5 linked regions of the Homo sapiens genome follow. The protein of the gene in region 1 purifies or fractionates together with the protein of each later gene. This does not show direct contact. Each region holds a gene or a part of one and is shown on either strand. Other genes may lie near its edges.

What was found.
Region 2: the proteins of CC2D1B (region 1) and ZNF843 purify together in Homo sapiens (co-immunoprecipitation; one large-scale study listed by IntAct). This does not show direct contact.
Region 3: the proteins of CC2D1B (region 1) and NUCKS1 fractionate together in Homo sapiens (co-fractionation; one large-scale study listed by BioGRID). This does not show direct contact.
Region 4: the proteins of CC2D1B (region 1) and FAT3 purify together in Homo sapiens (affinity purification with mass spectrometry; one large-scale study listed by BioGRID and IntAct). This does not show direct contact.
Region 5: the proteins of CC2D1B (region 1) and PCDH7 purify together in Homo sapiens (affinity purification with mass spectrometry; one large-scale study listed by BioGRID and IntAct). This does not show direct contact.

Annotation. Positions count from the first base shown.
Region 1 is NC_000001.11:52,363,406-52,367,341, forward strand, and holds the start of CC2D1B (coiled-coil and C2 domain-containing protein 1B), read right to left. Parts: upstream 2,801-3,936; 5' UTR 2,664-2,800; intron 1,230-2,663; 5' UTR 1,216-1,229; coding exon 1,147-1,215; intron 1-1,146. UniProt on the Homo sapiens protein: Transcription factor that binds specifically to the DRE (dual repressor element) and represses HTR1A gene transcription in neuronal cells.
Region 2 is NC_000016.10:31,437,358-31,439,811, reverse strand, and holds part of ZNF843 (zinc finger protein 843), read left to right. Parts: intron 1-2,454.
Region 3 is NC_000001.11:205,719,180-205,722,705, reverse strand, and holds part of NUCKS1 (nuclear ubiquitous casein and cyclin-dependent kinase substrate 1), read left to right. Parts: intron 1-2,052; coding exon 2,053-2,205; intron 2,206-3,029; coding exon 3,030-3,179; intron 3,180-3,526.
Region 4 is NC_000011.10:92,227,814-92,231,339, reverse strand, and holds part of FAT3 (protocadherin Fat 3 isoform 1 precursor), read right to left. Parts: intron 1-3,526.
Region 5 is NC_000004.12:31,143,365-31,147,322, reverse strand, and holds the end of PCDH7 (protocadherin-7 isoform d precursor), read right to left. Parts: 3' UTR 523-3,958; downstream 1-522.

The sequences.
Region 1 (3,936 bases):
AAAAAAAGAAGGTCCTATTTTTTTAAACTCTGGTAAAACACATACAACATGAAATTTACCATCTTAACCACTGTTAAGGGTGAGTTCAATGGCATAAGGACATTCACAATATCCTGCTACCATCGCCATCATCCATCCACAGAACTGTTTTCATGTTGTGAAACAAACTTTCTACCCATTAAACATTAACCCCCCTTCCTCCCCTCCTTCCAGCCTCTGGTAAGCACCATTCTTCTGTTTCCATGAATATGACTACTCTAGGTAGAGGTACATCCTTTTTTTTTTTTTTTTCTGAGACAGAGTCTGGCTCTGTCGCCCAGGCTAGAGTGCAGTGGCACTATCTTGGCTCACTGCAACCTCTGCCTCCCGGGTCTAAGCGATTCTCCTGCCTCAGCCTCCCAAGAAGCTGGGAATACAGGCACATGCCACCACGCCCAGCTAATTTTTGTATTTTTAGTAGAGATGGGGTTTCACTATGTTGGCCAGGCTGGTCTCAAACTCCTGACCTCAGGTGATCCACCCACCTCGGCCTCCCAAAGTGCTGGGATTACAGGCGTGATCCACGGCACCCAGCTTACATTCTGTTTTTATCCCAATGTTCAGATGAAACTGAGACAGTCTTGTGAGACAATCAGAATTTAAAACAAGCTCTTTGCGACTTGAGTCTATGCCCTTTACCCCACCTCCTTTCTTACCTGCCTTTTTAAAGACAGTAAAAATGGACTAAGAAGTCTCAAGATGTAGGCCCAGAAGAAATAAAGGAAGAAAATTGGAGAGGAGACCCCCCTGTTCTTCCACTTGGGGCACAGCCATCTGTCCCTAGGCAGTGAAGTCCTCCCACTGACTACAGCCCTCATGCCCTGGCATCCCTGGCTAACAAGCAAAGTTGTGACCCTATCTAAGGAACCTTTGAGAGCACTGAGGTCCCATCAGAACATCCTAAACTTTGGTGATTCCTGAACCCTCTCCCCACTTGTATGTGGAAGAGACTAGTAGGAGGGTGTCTAAGGGCTCTGCCACCTCCAGGAGGCACTGCTCCAAGTCTCTGAACTAATGGGGGAACTACATGTGATCCAGTTTGCCTAAGTTGTCTAGGGACCCCCATCCCCAAACCGACCCAGTAGCCTAGAAGGCTAAGTTCCATACCTGCTTGGCAGCGGCCACCCCTTGGCCTCTGGCCTGAGGGCCCTTCCGAGGTCTTGGCCCTGGCATCATGGCAGCCTAGATACCTATGGAAGAGTTACAGAGATTCAGGCTGGAGTAGCCCATAAGCCACGCCCCCAACAGTGCTACCCGTGGTAAGGTGTGGATAGTAAACTCCCAAAGAAGGCAATGCTGAACACCAAAGTATGGGTTACCTTTAATTAAAGCACTGAAGCAGCACAGGCCATGGGAGGGATGGGGATCACCTGTTAATGGGTTTACTGAGGAATGTTCTGAACGGACTCAAATTTAAAAAGCACATTCAGGGAAGTACTCTAGGTTCAGGGTGGGTGGAAGGCTGGGTAGAATTCAGAAAGGCTCTAAAGCTGTGCTTATGGAAGCCACAGCTGGCTATTTAATTTTAAATTTCAATGAATTAAAATGAAATAAAGCTAAAAATCCAGTCCATCAGCCACAACAGACACATTCCAAGTGCTTAACAGCCATATGTGGTGAGGGGCTATGACCAGACAGCACACACACAGAACATTTTCATCATCCAAGGACATGTCATCAAAGTTCCATCTCACAGCTGAGCTCTGGAGAAAGCTGGCTCAGCATTCTGATTCCCATAAAGATCTCACAGTTATTCACAGGACCTCCTGTGTCAGACCTTGCGCTGGGCACTGGGAGCGCAGAAATGAACCTAAGACGGTCTCAGCCTTCAATGACCATTTACAGGGTGGAGGTGGACTACACGGGGTTGCCCCAGGGGCCATGGGTGCCCTGAGGTGACCCCTTCTTCAGCCCTGGGAGAAAAGGCTCCTCCTTCGAGGCGGTGACGCCTGAGCTGAGTCACGCAAAGAAGTTGGGGGAAAGAGGGAAATAGGATTCCAAGACGAGGGAACACTTGACGGCTCTGAAGTGGGGAGCAGCTTGGCCTGTACAATGGAACCTGAGGCCTGGTATGACTGGGGCATAAGCGGTGAGGCCTGAATGCACAAGCCGAGGTGGAAATGTGAGCAAGCGGCAGAATATGAAAACCTCTAAGCCGAAAAGCGTTTGGGCATTATTCTGAGGGCGCTGGGAAAGAAGTGGCGGGATCGTATCGGTGTTTCAGAAACCCCATTCTGGCACCAAAGGGGAGGTGCACAGAAGGTAGGGGGAAAAGGCAGGAAGCCGGCGCATCTCGCCACAGCGCTGGCGGGGAGACCAGCTGACGGGCGTGGAGGCGGCGGGGAGCGGGCGGAGGAGCTGGCGGGCGCTCCGGGGGACTCTGAGTGTCAGATTTCGGGAGTGACTCCGGCTCAGGTGAAAGCGAGGCCAGACACTCCAAGGCTGCGGCCCCGATGACACAGCCAGGCCTCACGGAAGGTGGGCAACGGAGTCCGTAGGGGGAGGCGACACGGGACCCCCACTCCCGCGCTGCGGGACGCGCCGCCCTGCCCCGCCCGCGCCGCCTCCATCTACCCCCGCGGTCCCCAGAACTCCCCACGCCGAGGGGCGGGGACGCGGCATACCTCGCGGTGAATCCGAGCCAAACCCCGGCCTTGTCTCACCCGGCACCGCCCTGGGCTCCCGCGGGCCCTGGGCCGCAGCGGTAGCGACAGGAAGCGCCAGCAGGGGAGGTGGCTCGCGCGCAACACGTGACCCCACTGGCCGGCGGCCGGCAGTGCGCATGTGCACGGCTACGCGGGCGGGGGGCTCCAACAGGTGACACCGGGGCGGGGTTCGCAGCGCGCAGGCGCGTTCGGGTAGGTAGCGCAGGACAGGAACTCTGGGCGGTTCCGCCGGGGCGTCCACCGGCCGGCTCCAATGAGGTCGCTGCGCCCAGCCCTCGCCCACTTGCAGCCTCTCCACCGAACCTCCTCCCTCACTCAGCCCGAGGCGCTGGGCGCTCGCTCGCTCGCTGGACCTACCCCGCCTCCAGCCCTCGCCCCGCCCCACCGAGCAAGAGGGCGGGGCCTACCCAAGCTCCGCCCTGGAAGAGAGACAGGGGCGGGGCTCACCTGCTTGTCCATGTCCTTTAAGCCTGGGGAAATGGAAATGGGGCCCACCATATGTTTCTTAATAATTCAGCACCTGAAAGTATCCTTTTCCGGTCCGTTGAAAACTTCAGACAGGCAGAGCTCGCTGCACATCTTAAATACTTTACAGAGTCTAACACTAAGTTCTCACTCGCCTACCCTGCTGTGCAATCAAATGGCATGGAGGATATTAAGGAGAGAAACGGAGTATACCCGTTTTCTGCCAAGCTTGTGTCAGTCACTTTTCATAATGGAGCTTATACCAGTTCTCAATCCTGCAAGATGGACATCATCTCTAGAAGAAACGGAGGCTCAGAGAGAATTATTTGCCCAGGGAAATACAAAACCAACCTCTTTAGCATCAGTAAATATGCTCTAGTCTAGTTTTCTAAGGAAAGCACGTTTCTCCCTGCGGCTTGCAGAGTCCAGTTAACAAGAGATTGAGCTCAGGAGTCCGAGACCAGCCTGGGCAACATGGCGAAACCCTGTCTCTACAAAAAATTACAAATATTAGCCGGGTGTGGTGGTGCGTGCCTGTAGTCCTACCTACTGAGAGGCCGAGGCAGGAGAATCGCTGTGGCCCCGGAGGTCCAAGCTGCAATGAGCTGTCAACTGCACTCCAACCCGGGTGACAAGGTGAGACCCTGTCTCAAACTAAAACAAACAAAAAAACCGAGAGCGGAGTAATGGGGAAGTGGCCAGATTCCCATCTAAAGTAACCACTTCGATTTTGGGGGGAAAGAGAACGGCTTAAAAGGAAAATTTG
Region 2 (2,454 bases), on another chromosome or scaffold:
TAACCATCATCACATTCAGGGTGCAGAACTTTGCCGTCACCCTCTCATGCCCCGTGCAGTCAGCTGCTCTCTCCCTGACCCAGCCCCAGAGAACCACTGGTCTACTTTCTGCCCCTATGAGTAAGTTTTGCTTTTTGTAGAAATGGAATTTCACAGAAATTGAATCATATAGTATGTATTCTCTTGTGTCTGGCTTCTCTGGTTTAACATAATTTTGAGATTCATCCATTGCTTGCAGGTAACAGCAGTTCCTCTTTGTTGCTAGTATTCTGTTACATGGGTAAACCACACTTTATTCTTCCACCCATTGATGGACATTTGGATGTTTCTATCTTATGCCTATTATGAATAAAGCTGATATGCACATTTGTGAAAAAGTCTTTGTGTGGACATATGTTTTTATTTTCCTTGAGTAAATCCTAAGAGTAGAATTATTGAGTCATGTGGTAAGTGTACATTTAATTTACTGTTAACCAAAACTGGTTTCCAAAATGCCCAGGCCATTTTATATTTCCCCAGCAATGTGTGAGACTCCATATCCTCAGGCAACAGTTAGCACCTTCAGTCTGCTCGATTTTAGTGGGTGCATAAGGGCACTCCTTGTGGTTTTAATTTGCATTTCTCGGGTGACTGATGATAGCACATCACTTTTTTTGTATCATTATACTTTTAAGTTCTAGGGTACATGTGCACAACGTGCAGGTTTGTTACATATGTATACATGTGCCATGTTGGTGTGCTGCACCCATTAACTCGTCATTTACATTAGGTATATCTGCTAATGCTATCCCTCCCCCCTCCCCCCACCCCACAACAGGCCCCGGTGTGTGATGTCCCCCTTCCTGTGTCCATGTGTTCTCATTGTTCAATTCCCACCTATGAGTGGGAACATGCGGTGTTTATTTTTTTGTCCTTGGGATAGTTTGCTGAGAATGAGCACATCACTTTTAAATGGTAGCTCACTTCTAGGGAAGGAAGGAGAGCGATGAGTCAAAAGAAGTTCCACTGTTTTTGAGCTTAGGTGTCCAAGAGAATAAAACTGGTGCCACCAACAAAAGTGAAATTAGGAGTCAGTGATTTTTTGGCATAGGGGTATTAAATTTGAAGTGATGGCAGGATGTTAAGGGGGAAATAACTGGGTGGCAGCATGCTTTGCAGGCTTGGAGCTCAGTGGGAGGTCAGGTCCTGAGATAAGAGCCAAGTATCCGCTGAGAGGTGAAGCACAAACGGGGAGAGAGAGAGAGATGAGACCCAAGGATCAAGCCAGGGCTCAGAGTGGCCAGAAGCATCTGTTCCCCAGTCCCCATTTCCAAGTAATGGAAAATCCAGACTGACAGGCCTAATAGGCCTAAAAATAGATAAAATTAGCCCACTTATATATGAGCCACTGGAATACTTTCTAGTCCTATTGCAAACTCTACTCTTGGCTACTTTGATTGTTAAAATTGTAAATTAAAAGTTATCTATACCCTTTTTAAAAAAGAGTTTCAATATGGTTTGTGACAATCAGTTAATTATCTTTGTGGCCTGAGGGGCCCCCTTCTTTTAATCACCTTAACCAATAAAGCAATAATGTCTTTCTGAAGTTGATTCTTTTTGATGGTTTGTGTTTGGATGTTCAAGGTTAATGAGGAAATGATCCTTACCACGCTTTTGTAATTTTAATACAGACAGGGTCTTGCTTTGTTGCCCAGGTTAGTCTCCTGGGCTCAAGGATCCTCTGGCCTCAGCCTCCCAAAGTGCTAGGATTATAGGCATGAGCCACTGCGCCCAGCCTCTTGCTACACTTTCATTCAGGATAAAGATGGTAATATCCAAGACTACTGAAAGTCTTATAACCCCAATCCAAATTTTAAAATAAATCTTACTATTAAGAAGCATTGATTGGCCATGTGCAGTGGCTCACACCTGTAATCCCAGCACTTTGGGAGGCTAAGGTGGGTGGATCATGAGGTCAGGAGTTTGAGACCAGCCTGACCAACATGGTGAAATCCTGTCTCTACTAAAATACAAAAAAAAATTAGCCGGCAATGGTGGCAGGCGCCTGTAATCCCAGCTACTCGGGAGGCTGAGGCAGGAGAATCGCTTGAACCCGGGTGGCAGAGGTTGCAGTGAGCCGACATAGCTAGCACCACTGCACTCCAGCCTGGGTGACAGAGCAAGACTCCCTCTCAAAAAAAAAAAAAAAAAAACATTGATTATAGGAGGCCGGGCATGGTAGCTCATGCTTGCAATCCCAGCACTTTGGGTGGCCCAGGTGGGCCAACCGCTTGAGCCCAGGAGTTTGAGAGCAGCTTGGGCAACATGATAAAAACCAGCTTCTACCAAAAAAAAAAAAAAAAATGCTGGGCCTAGTGGTGTGCAACTACAGTCCCAGCTACTTGAGAGACTGAAGCGGGAGGATCACTTGAGCCAGAGAGGCAAAGGTTGCAGTGATCAGAGATCGTACTACTG
Region 3 (3,526 bases), about 150 Mb from region 1:
AAAATTTTTTTTAGGCTGAGCATGGTGGCTCCCACCCGCCATCCCAGCACTTTGGGAGGCCAAGGTGGGTGGATCACCTGAGGTCAAGGGTTCAAGACCAGCCTGGCCAACATGGCAAAACCCTGTCTCTATCAAAAATACAAAAATTTGGCTGAGCCCGGTGGCTCATGCCTGTAATCCCAGCACTTTGGGAGGCCAAGGCAGGTGGATCACCTGAGGTCAGGAGTTCGAGACCAGCCTGGCCAACATGGCAAAACTCCTTCTCTACTAAAAATAAAAAAATTAGCCGGGTGTGGTGGTGGGTGCCTGTAATCCCAGCTACTCGGGAGGCCGAGGCAGGAGAATCACTTGAACCTGGGAGGCAGAGGTTGCAGTGAGCTGAGATCCCACTGTTGTACTCCAGCCTAAGCAAGAAGAGCAAAACTCCATCTCAAAAAACAAACAAGCAAACAACAACAAGAAATTAGCCGGGCATGGCTGCATGTGCCTGGAGTCCTAGCTACTCGGGAGGATGAGACAGGAGAATAGCTTGAACCCAGGAGGCACAGGCTGCAATGAGCCAAGATTGCACCACTGCACTCCAATCTGGGCGACAGAGTGAGACTCCAAATTAAAAAAAAAAAAATTTTTTTTTCATTAATAGACTCTAAGAATATGTGAAAGTAAATTTTTTATAGGCTTCTCCAAATGTCTTTCACTAATTAATCTAAATATGTATTTTAAAGATTTTCCAGCTGGGCGCAGTGGCTCACGCCTGTAATTCCAGCACTTTGGGAGGCCAAGGAGGGTGGATCACCTGAGGTCGGGAGTTCGAGACCAGCCTGACCAACATGGTGAAACCCTGTCTCTACTAAAAATACAAAATTAGCCAGGAGTGGTGGTGCGCACCTGTAATCCCAGCTACTCGGGAGGGTGAGGCAGGAGAATCGCTTGAACCTGGGAGGTGAGGTTGCAGTGAGGCGAGATTGCGCTATATTGCACTCCAGCCTGGGCAACAAGAGCAAAACTCCATCTCAAAAAAAAAAAAAAGGTTTTCCACAATCCCCTCTAAATTGAAATGGTCACAAGCCATTCATTGTAAAGGGTAACAGTTTGACATTATTTTAGGGTTTTCGTGTTTTATGTCTTAGAATAAAGATTATTGGAAGACATTCTTTCTCTCTCATACTATGTTAAGATATTTTTCTAACTTTAGCTTTCAAAAACAGTGAACATAGATTTGAATGTAATTGAGAATTGTAGAGCAAAGCAATGATGTAACTTTAAAGTATAGGAGTCATGTATTCACGCTTTAATTCAGCTTGTCTACTGCTTAAAATTACATTCCCTTGTTACTTTATATGTAATAGTGGTTACATAGTCTTGTCCAAGTTCATTCTTTGTGAATTTAGGTCCCCTTTATACATTTTGTAGAATTTTTTTTTTTTTTATGTTGTGGGATACATGTGCAGGATGTGCAGGTTTGTTACATACGTAAATGTGTGCCATGGTGATTTGCTGCACCCATCAACCCATCACCTAGGTATTAAGCCCAGCATGCATTAGCTAATTTTTAATGCTCTCCCTCTCCATCCCCCCACCCTGCCCCCTCCCTCGCCACAGGCCCCAGTGTGTGTTGTTCCCCTCCCTGTGTCCATGTGTTCTCATTGTTCAGCTCCCACTTATAAGCGAGAACATGGCAGTGTTTGGTCTTTTGTGCCTGCATTAGTTTGCTGAGGATAATGGCCTCCAGCTCCATCCATGTCCCTGCAAAGAGCATGATCTCCTTCCCTTTTTATGGCTGCATAGTATTCCATGGTGTGTATGTACCACATTTTCTTTATCCAGTCTATCATTGATGGGCATTTGAGTTGATTCCATCATTTTGCAGAAATGTTGAAGGATAGAATTTGCCCTTTTACAATGAAATAAAGCTGCAGATTATATCCTATATTGGCCACTGTGTTGGCCTTTTCAGTCAGTTATGTTTTCAGTCAATTATTAATCTTTTGCACTATCTTGTCAAATATAAAATTCTTTAATCATTATATCATGGTAATTCTGATATTGCAGAGGATAGTGAAGATGAAAAAGAAGATCATAAAAATGTGCGCCAACAACGGCAGGCGGCATCTAAAGCAGCTTCTAAACAGAGAGAGATGCTCATGGAAGATGTGGGCAGTGAGGAAGAACAAGAAGAGGAGGATGAGGCACCATTCCAGGAGAGTATGTGAAGTTGTTTTGTGTACTTTGGTTGTTTGGTCATAATTGTAGTTTGTGACCTTGGTTACTTTGGCATTTTCTAGGATGCTAAATGTTACAACCAGTCCCTTAAATTGGGTAGATACTCCGTGTTAAAAGAGATGACTGTATTGGTTCCTGTTAATATTTTTAAAGGTTCAGAGATTCTCACGATTGCCCACCATTTGTAATGGTTGCACCCTTTATTTAATGATGTCTGTGTTCAAACACTGAATGAACAATTTGCTTAAGTAACAGTCACATTAGGCATTGTGATTGAGATTTGTATTTTGCCCTGGTGGAGGAGGTTGTAGACCTCTTTTCACAGAAAAAAACATGTTAATAATAAAATTTAGGTGTTTCACAGGTTATTCAGATTAGTTAATCCTATGTATTTTTGTTTTGTGTTTGGTTTTCTTGTTTCACTTATTCATAATTGGACCAAAAAGGCCCTGTCAGTTCAGTTTTGTTTCCCTGGTCTCAACCAGTACTACTTGGAAGTGATGGAACTACCAAAAGTTATTTGATAGTTTCAGTTTTTATTCAGATTAACTCTTACCCTTCCTGTTTTCAATCTACTTTTCAAACACATCACTCATGTAACTCTCTCATGTAAGGTGCATGCAAAATCCATTTGACAAATGAGGCCAGTGATGACTCCAGTCAAATTGGTAGTACAGCTCCAAATAGAATCCAAGGGTGTTTGACTCCCAAATCCCATCCTCTAGTCATTCTTAGCACTCTCTTCCTTTTTTACTTGGAAGGATGTGTACATTAAGTTAGATGTTGAAATTCTTCTTTCTTCTCAGAAGATTCCGGCAGCGATGAAGATTTCCTAATGGAAGATGATGACGATAGTGACTATGGCAGTTCGAAAAAGAAAAACAAAAAGATGGTTAAGAAGTCCAAACCTGAAAGAAAAGAAAAGAAAATGCCCAAACCCAGACTAAAGGCTACAGGTAATTTCTGCAGAAGTGAAATTAAATTTACTGCTTTAAAAATTTTGAGAATCATTATTTTCAATACAGAAATTCCTCATTAGGATTTGGCATTGGCCTGATGTTTAGCAGGAATACAAGAAATCTAAAAGGGTCTTGTATTCTGCAACTGGAAGTATCTCTTATTAATAAAGACACTAGCCTGTTTAAGAGTCTAGTGGGCTTAGCCATGTTCTTCAACTACTGCCAGTACTTGAGCAAGATTTCAGAATGATCTATTTGTTTCAGACACAGTGGTAGAAACACTGTGTCATCATAGTTGTTACTGCTCTTTTTTCCTCACTGGTATCACAGTCTCAGCAGCCAGC
Region 4 (3,526 bases), on another chromosome or scaffold:
AGCCATTTTTTACAAATTTTTTTAAGGTAAAAAACCAAGCAACAGATCTAAATGATGAATACCTAAAGGACAGAACACTCTGAGGTGTTCTGTGACAAAGTTAACCTTGAGATTCATAACTGAGTCTCAAACATAGGAAAACAGAGGACTAAGAATACACCATGTGCACCTGCATGCAGGCTCCCAGACACATTCAAAAATCCTAAAAGTTACCTTTGAAATTGGGGGGTGGGAGACCACAAGGGGATAGTGGAGAAAGGACATGAATAAATTCTGAAGTCTTCTCAAAATATTAACTAACATTCCGACAGCCCATTTGGGCTGCCCCATGAATACGTTCTTCCAAAAAGGAGCTCTGCACTGCCCCCTGACAAATGAAGGAATTAATTTATTTCATAGTGCCTTGCATACATTAGGGCTGTAGTAAGAATTATTAAATGGAATTATATTCACTTTAATAACTTACACTCCTCTTAAAAGTTTACTCCACCTCACATTAATCTCTCCCTCCTCCTTGAGGCTCCTGTTCATAGACATTCTTTTGTCAATTAATAAACATTTTTAGATGTGACTTCTAGTGTACACACACAGGCATCTCTCATTTTCTCAATAAACAGCACGAAGCAGAAGCAATGGATATATTTTACTATTCTTTGAATCTTGCCCACTGTCTTGTGAAAGAGGTAGATTCAGTAAATATCGCTGAAAAGAACTTTAAAATAATTTTTTTAAAAAATAAATAACAGGGCTGAGGACGGTGGCTCATGCCTCTAATCCGAGCACTTTGGGAGGCCGAGGTGGGTGGATCACTTGAGGCCAGGAGTTCGAGACCAGCCTGGCCAACATGGTGAAACACCCTGTCTACTAAAAATATAAAAATTAAGAGGGCATGGTGGTGTGCGCCTGTAATCCCAGTTACTCGGGAGACTGAGGCATGAGAATCACTTGAACCCAGGAGGCGGAGGTTGCAGTGAGCCAAGAACACGCCACTGCACTCCAGCCTGGGCAATGGAGCGAGACTCTGTTTCTAAATAAATAAATAACAAAAATAAAATAGGGAAAATAGAGGAGAAAGCAAGACATTTTTTAAAGACAAAAAATTATTTTAAATTCCATGTGACTTTACAGAATTTTAAAAAGGGATATATTTCAGATGTACAAAGGCAAAAGTTAAAGAAACAACTTTCCTTTATTAAAGAGTCTATAATTCACAGTTTTGGAACCCTGGAAGAGCAGAACGTTGAAATACTAACAACTGCTCAAGGACTCCTCTCAGGGTCCTCTGTATGACTTTTCCGCCCACGGTAGGCAACACCTTCAATAATGCATTGTTCAAGGAAGGACAATGCTGTGGCCCTCCTCACACCTCCTCTAGGCTCTCCACATTCATATATATCTATCTGGTGAAGGAAGTAATATTTTGTTTATGTGAAGAGTTTAATTGATTAAGTTCTGAAATCTGTTTTCTATTTTCTATCATCATGCCAGTTAATCCATTCTCAAATTTTCATCCCTTCCACTTAGCAGAAAAAAAAAAAAAAAAAGAAAAAAAATCTAAGTCCTGGAATATGCTAAAATTAAGACTAACCTGAAAATGCCATTCCAATTCAGAACTGCTAGAATGGGTCATTTGTCACTATTACATGTAACTGATAGCCTATTTTGGTAGACCAGAAACTGGCTTGAAGCCACTAGACAAGTGTCAAATATGTTCTCAATAAATGCAGTCTGTGTCATTAAGCTGAATTTCTTTTTCAAGGAAAGGCAGTCTTTCCTGAAAATTATTCTTAGAAATTTGGAGAAAGGGAGGCAATGTAAAAAAAAACAAAAAACAAAAAAAAAAAAAACACGAAAAAACAAAAAAAGAAAACAAGGAAAGGAATAAAGCTTATTAAAGGAGTAGATACCCTGCAATTGACAGAAAACTCAGTAAGTTTGAGAAGCCTGTAGAATTAAATCGACCAAAACACAGAAAAGATATTTACTCTCTGAGTCTTCCCAGAGAAAGTTGTCACACTGTGGTGATCCTCAAGAGGTCAGGATATATTAAAAAACAAAGACCCACTCCTCACAATTTGGGTAGAAAGATGATGAAAATGACATATTCAACAGTTAGAGATCAAAAAAGCATTGCAGAAAATTTCACCAATAAGTAAAACTGCATACACAGGAGTTGTGCTTCCTTTAATATTTTTAAGACCATGCATATCTGTAGAAATCAGAGGCTCTGCTAACTCTAGGAAGGAATTGGGCAGAACACAAATCCTTCACTCTAAGTCTGTCAGATCCCTTTCTTTTAAATTTCCATTCCAATTCTAATGTTTGCCACAATCAGCAAAGAAGTGGTTCATCAATAGTCCTTCTTCAGCAATCAAAGGAAATCAATTCAAATGGACAGGCCCACCTGCTCCCATCAGATGATTCCCTACTCAAGGCTCCTGCAGAAGGAAAAAAAAGAAAAACCTGGGGATGACCCCACAATGGAAAAAAAAATCAAATATCCTCATTACTATCTTTCTCCTTCTTGCCCTAGAGGAAAAAGCCAACCCACCAGGCAACTGGACAGATGTGGGCTATGAAGGAATGCCATACCCCAATGCCACAACTGGTAAAATAAAGCCACAATAGTCCTTTATGCTTTGTGAGCTATTAATATAGCATAACAACGCAACAGCCACCAGGAGCACTCCTCAGACCTGCTGGTAATGACTAAATACCCTCTCCTGCCTGGTAATTGCCTACTTCTTTCTATTTGACATAATTCATCAGCCAGATTAGCTAAGGTCATTCAGGATCGTATGAAGAAGAAAGCAGGGATGATAACATAACCTGACACATCAAAATGTTCTTCTGTGAGCAGCCTGAAGAGCCATAGCTTTACAAAGGCTGTGGGCTAGCAAAATAACCGTATAGCATACAGGTCAGTGGGTATCCACTGTTTATTGCTACTCATTTCATTTTTGAGTAGCTCAGCACAACTGTAATTGCTAGTTAACAGACAGACTGGGTCCTATTAAAAAAATCCCCAAAATGACTCCGCCAGAGACCAGAATAAATAAAATTTGAAAGAAAGATTTCTAAAAGGCTTGAGAGCCAGTCGCTGGTCAACAAACCCTGGCTGTGAAAATCCTGCAGCCACAAGAGATGGAGCCAGCCCAGCAGCTGACTGATTTCTGATCTCTGAGCCAGCTGCCTTTCATGTGGAGTTCTCTGTGTGATTCAGATGATATGAAGACATTATAACTGGACAGTTCTGGGAACTTTCTCATCCCAGTGCACTGTGCACAGAAACTGGCCCCAGCATCACTCATTGTTCAAGTTCCAAAAAGGCAACAACTGAGATTCATGATTGAATATCAACATTCGGTTTAATTCTAAGAGACAACTTTTCTCCTTGTAAAATGTTAAAAAAAAAATAAAAAAAACTTCCCCCACTCCAACCCTATTAAATAAGAAGCACATCAAAGTGCTAAAGTTATTATGCTTTTTTTTTGTCTTTGTCTCTTAGAGCCCTGGTTTCCTTGGC
Region 5 (3,958 bases), on another chromosome or scaffold:
AAAGAAAAAGTAAGTTATCGAAGTAAAAATTATATTTTTCCTTTATTTTCTCTACATTTTGCATGATTTTTTAAAGCCTATAACTTTTTTGTATTTGTTGTTAAGTTAGATTAAAAACAAATATTTCCAAAACAAAGATACATTTTGACTTAGGATTACTTTTATCTTAAATGTGAAATTCCTGTAGATGCCTCTGAAAATAAATCAGTCTTCATGTTAATGATGTTAAGTTCCTTTTTCTGCCATACACTTTAAGGTAATAAGCTAGCTAGGTAAATGTCTCAGGAATTATTTTGATGAAACTGAAGGATCCGAGTTCTATTCCATTACGAGGCAAAGTAATGTGACAGTTATGAATGGCCCCCCCTAAATCAACAATTGCTGCCACATTAGCCTCCTTGTTGTGTCTTAATTTACAAGGAATCAAACCATCTTAAATCAAACTGGTACATGCATCCATTCACTTTTCGTCCAATCAAAACTGAATTACCTGTCAACAGAGAAGTACACTTACAAGTGTGAAACCATTTGACCATGTTATATTTTAATTTGCAGAGACAAAAATGACAAGCAATTTATTTACATAAAACTGTACAAAAGCAAATTAAATTATGCAAAGTATTTCATAAATAGTTGGACGAGTGTTTAATACATTTCGCCATGTTAAGCATAGTTGCGTGCATAGTGACTCATAATAAACGATGATAAATTGTTCTCTGCTTCACTATCAACATCCAAGTAGCAGAACAATAGTCAATGATTAACATTACAAACAGATCGTACCACACTGAACGCAAGTGCTTTAAACTGTAGGAAAAGTCTGAAAGTAAACCCTAGGTAGCTGAACAAATGATGCTTCCTCCAGATGTTATCATTACACCTTCACCTAGGTCACAACTCACAAGATTTACTATATTCATGATCATGCTCACTTTTTATTATTTATTTATTTATTTATTTATTTATTTATTTTTGCTTAAGGACACATTTTCTTATTTCTCACTGAGAGCATATACCTAAGATTATTTAGGTCTTTAGATTTCTCATGACTGTTTTTGGATGGCTGTTTGCTTCTTGACAATTTCTTCTGGTCTGTGTGTTTTATTCTATTTTCCTACAAGACAGCTTCCTAGGGTAGTGTTTCAGTCAGACATCCTCAGTACCATCTTAGTTCCTCCTCCCATAAAAATAATGCCTCCCTTGTTTTCTGAAACTCAGGCAGCAGGCCAGTCAGAAACCATACAGAAATGATATCTGGAGATTCAGAAAGAGCAGTAGATTTTAGATTGAAGCTACAGACGTTTTAATACACATAAATTTATATAGTTACTCATTAATTTATAAATGTGTCCTAATGTATAATGCATGCAAAATTCACTTGAGAGTCTTGTGTACAGAAAACAAATATGGTTTATATACTGTACAACCAAAATGAAACCATAGCTGAAAGAAACACAACAAAAAAGAAATAAAGAATAAAACTCTAAATCAGTATTTTACCTTGCCAAATGGACTGATTTCACTCCTGATAGTATCTCTGTGTTACACTTACAATAAACGCTTTCATCTTCTAGTCAGATTTAAGCAGCCCATATTAATGCCTTAACTTTGCTTTATGACATAACAATATTTAAGACTGGTCCATTATCTGAGTTTGTCAGAAGGCAAATTTTTAATATATTATTTATTATGTTCAGAAAATAAACATGGACAAATATACAGGATCAAAAAAGTTGGGAATAGCCCATTTCCCCTCATTGTCCAAACCCAACAACCGTTTTTTTACCGTAACAACAGGTATAAAAGGCACAGTTGCTTATTTTGCATTCACTCATTTATTTTTTTTGTTTCTTTTTATTGATTTTTTTTCAAAAGCACTCTATATATGGAGTGGCACCAGATTTAACCTATTTAAAATAAAAGTCATACAAACACAAAATATATTTCTGTGTCATGCCAGCTCATTATATAATAAACATGTTATGACAGCTAATTCTACTAGAATTACTGTGAATACTTACAGTACACTGAATTTTATTCTTTCACATCCATTTTAGTTTTAAAGAGAGGTTCACGAGTTAAATGACAATGGCATGGCTATCTTGAATGGGGTGCAAACATCATTGGGGAATGTGGATCCAATTAATCCGAAGGTCCGGTGTGACCCGTATTAGTTTTATAGACAAGAGAAGGGTTTAAGATAGGGTGAAATGAGCTATCAGTGGTTTCAATGTCTCATGAAAGAAAGAAATGCATTAAAAAAAAAAAAGTTTGTCAAACATCCGTGTTATGCAATTGAGTATTTTCTTTGTAACGTGCAAGAAAAAATGTGTATACATTTCATAAGTATCTTTAGAAGTATTTTGTCTTAATAGGTACTTACAGATTATACAAGGCAGAACTGCTTTAATGCAGTTTCCTAACAAAGTACTAGAATTGCATCTTTCCATAGTGTAAATAATAATCAAACATAAACATGTTCAATTACTGATATTTTAGTCCAATGTTTTTTGTTTCAATTACATATCTTTTTGCATCCTACCTATTATACATAAACTAACATCAAAATGAAAACTCCATTTAAGAAAGAGCATAAGGAAATGACCCCCAAATTGTACCCCACCAAACAGAGAAGCGGTTTTCAAAGATAAGTATTTTGAAGACCTATAGTGAATTATCAACCTATATTCCAGGCTGTGTCACTTTATAGTCTAAGAAATTCTGCAAAGCATGAAACTACCCAAAGCTACATTGTTTCTACAGTTTGCTAGAGAGCCATCAAGGCTATGCCTTAACCAGCTTGCAAACATTCAGTGATAAGTTTGTTCTCTTCACACCTGTTATTCCCTATTCTGTCCATGGATTGTCACTTTCGTCTGAATGTCCCAGCTCAATTTTCAGCCGTGTTAGGTTATCCTCTATAGAGTGAGTAGCTCAAAATCTGCATATTCTGTTTCTTTTTATTGCACTGGAAAAACTCTGCTTTCACCTTTGAGATATACATTCTGTGAAAAATGTCACTGCCCAAAACTCCTTTCTTTCATGTTCAGTCTAGATTTGTTTAAATAATGTTCAAATCACATTAGTGATAAAGTCAACTAGGGTGTCACCTTGTTTCAATGTTGTGAGTCTCAAAATATTTCTATATTGCACACGATTCAAAATTAATGCACTTGTGGTGCATCAAAGTGTGCACTGAACAAGTAAAAAATGCAATTGTAATTTAAAATGTGGATAAAAAGAGCAGCAAGCATAGCCTGGATTCTAAAATGATAATCGTGGACTTAACTATCAAGACTATATGCCAATGCATCTTTCTTAACCTACCCATGATCCATAAATACTATTTTAAAACATGGAATCTTCCCTGATAATATTACCTGAAACTAAACTTGAACCTCAACCAATTGCCTATTATAATACCAAAAATATATCTCACTAGTTTTCATTTTCTGCGCTTTCAAATAAAATCCATTTTAAAAGAAGGAACATTTTCCTGGGCACTATAAAATGAACTAGTGTTTGATTGTTTCTGTGCATACATGGGTTCAGTTGCTTTTGTTGTTTAATGGTTTTCCACGTCAAGACCAAATCAACTTCATGACTTCCCTGATCTGCCATATGATCTTTGGCCTTTGGATGATACAATTGTTCAAGTTAGTTAATAATAGTGGTCTTGTTCTGAAAAAATATATATAATTTTTAGAAGTCATAACTGGTGAAATTGATACATGTAATCAAGACTGTGTGTATACTGAGAATATTTGGTGAATGTATGGAATTGAAGTTGATGCTCTTGACCTGAAAATAACAACATATGACAATTTAGGACTGCAATCACCCACTGAGTATTGTTTTTCTCTTAGTCTTTGTTGGAATATTAAAGCTTTGATATTCCCAAAATACTTTTTAATACAGTCCCTCTTTCTAAGGACTGTACCTTTAGAGGGACTCTATC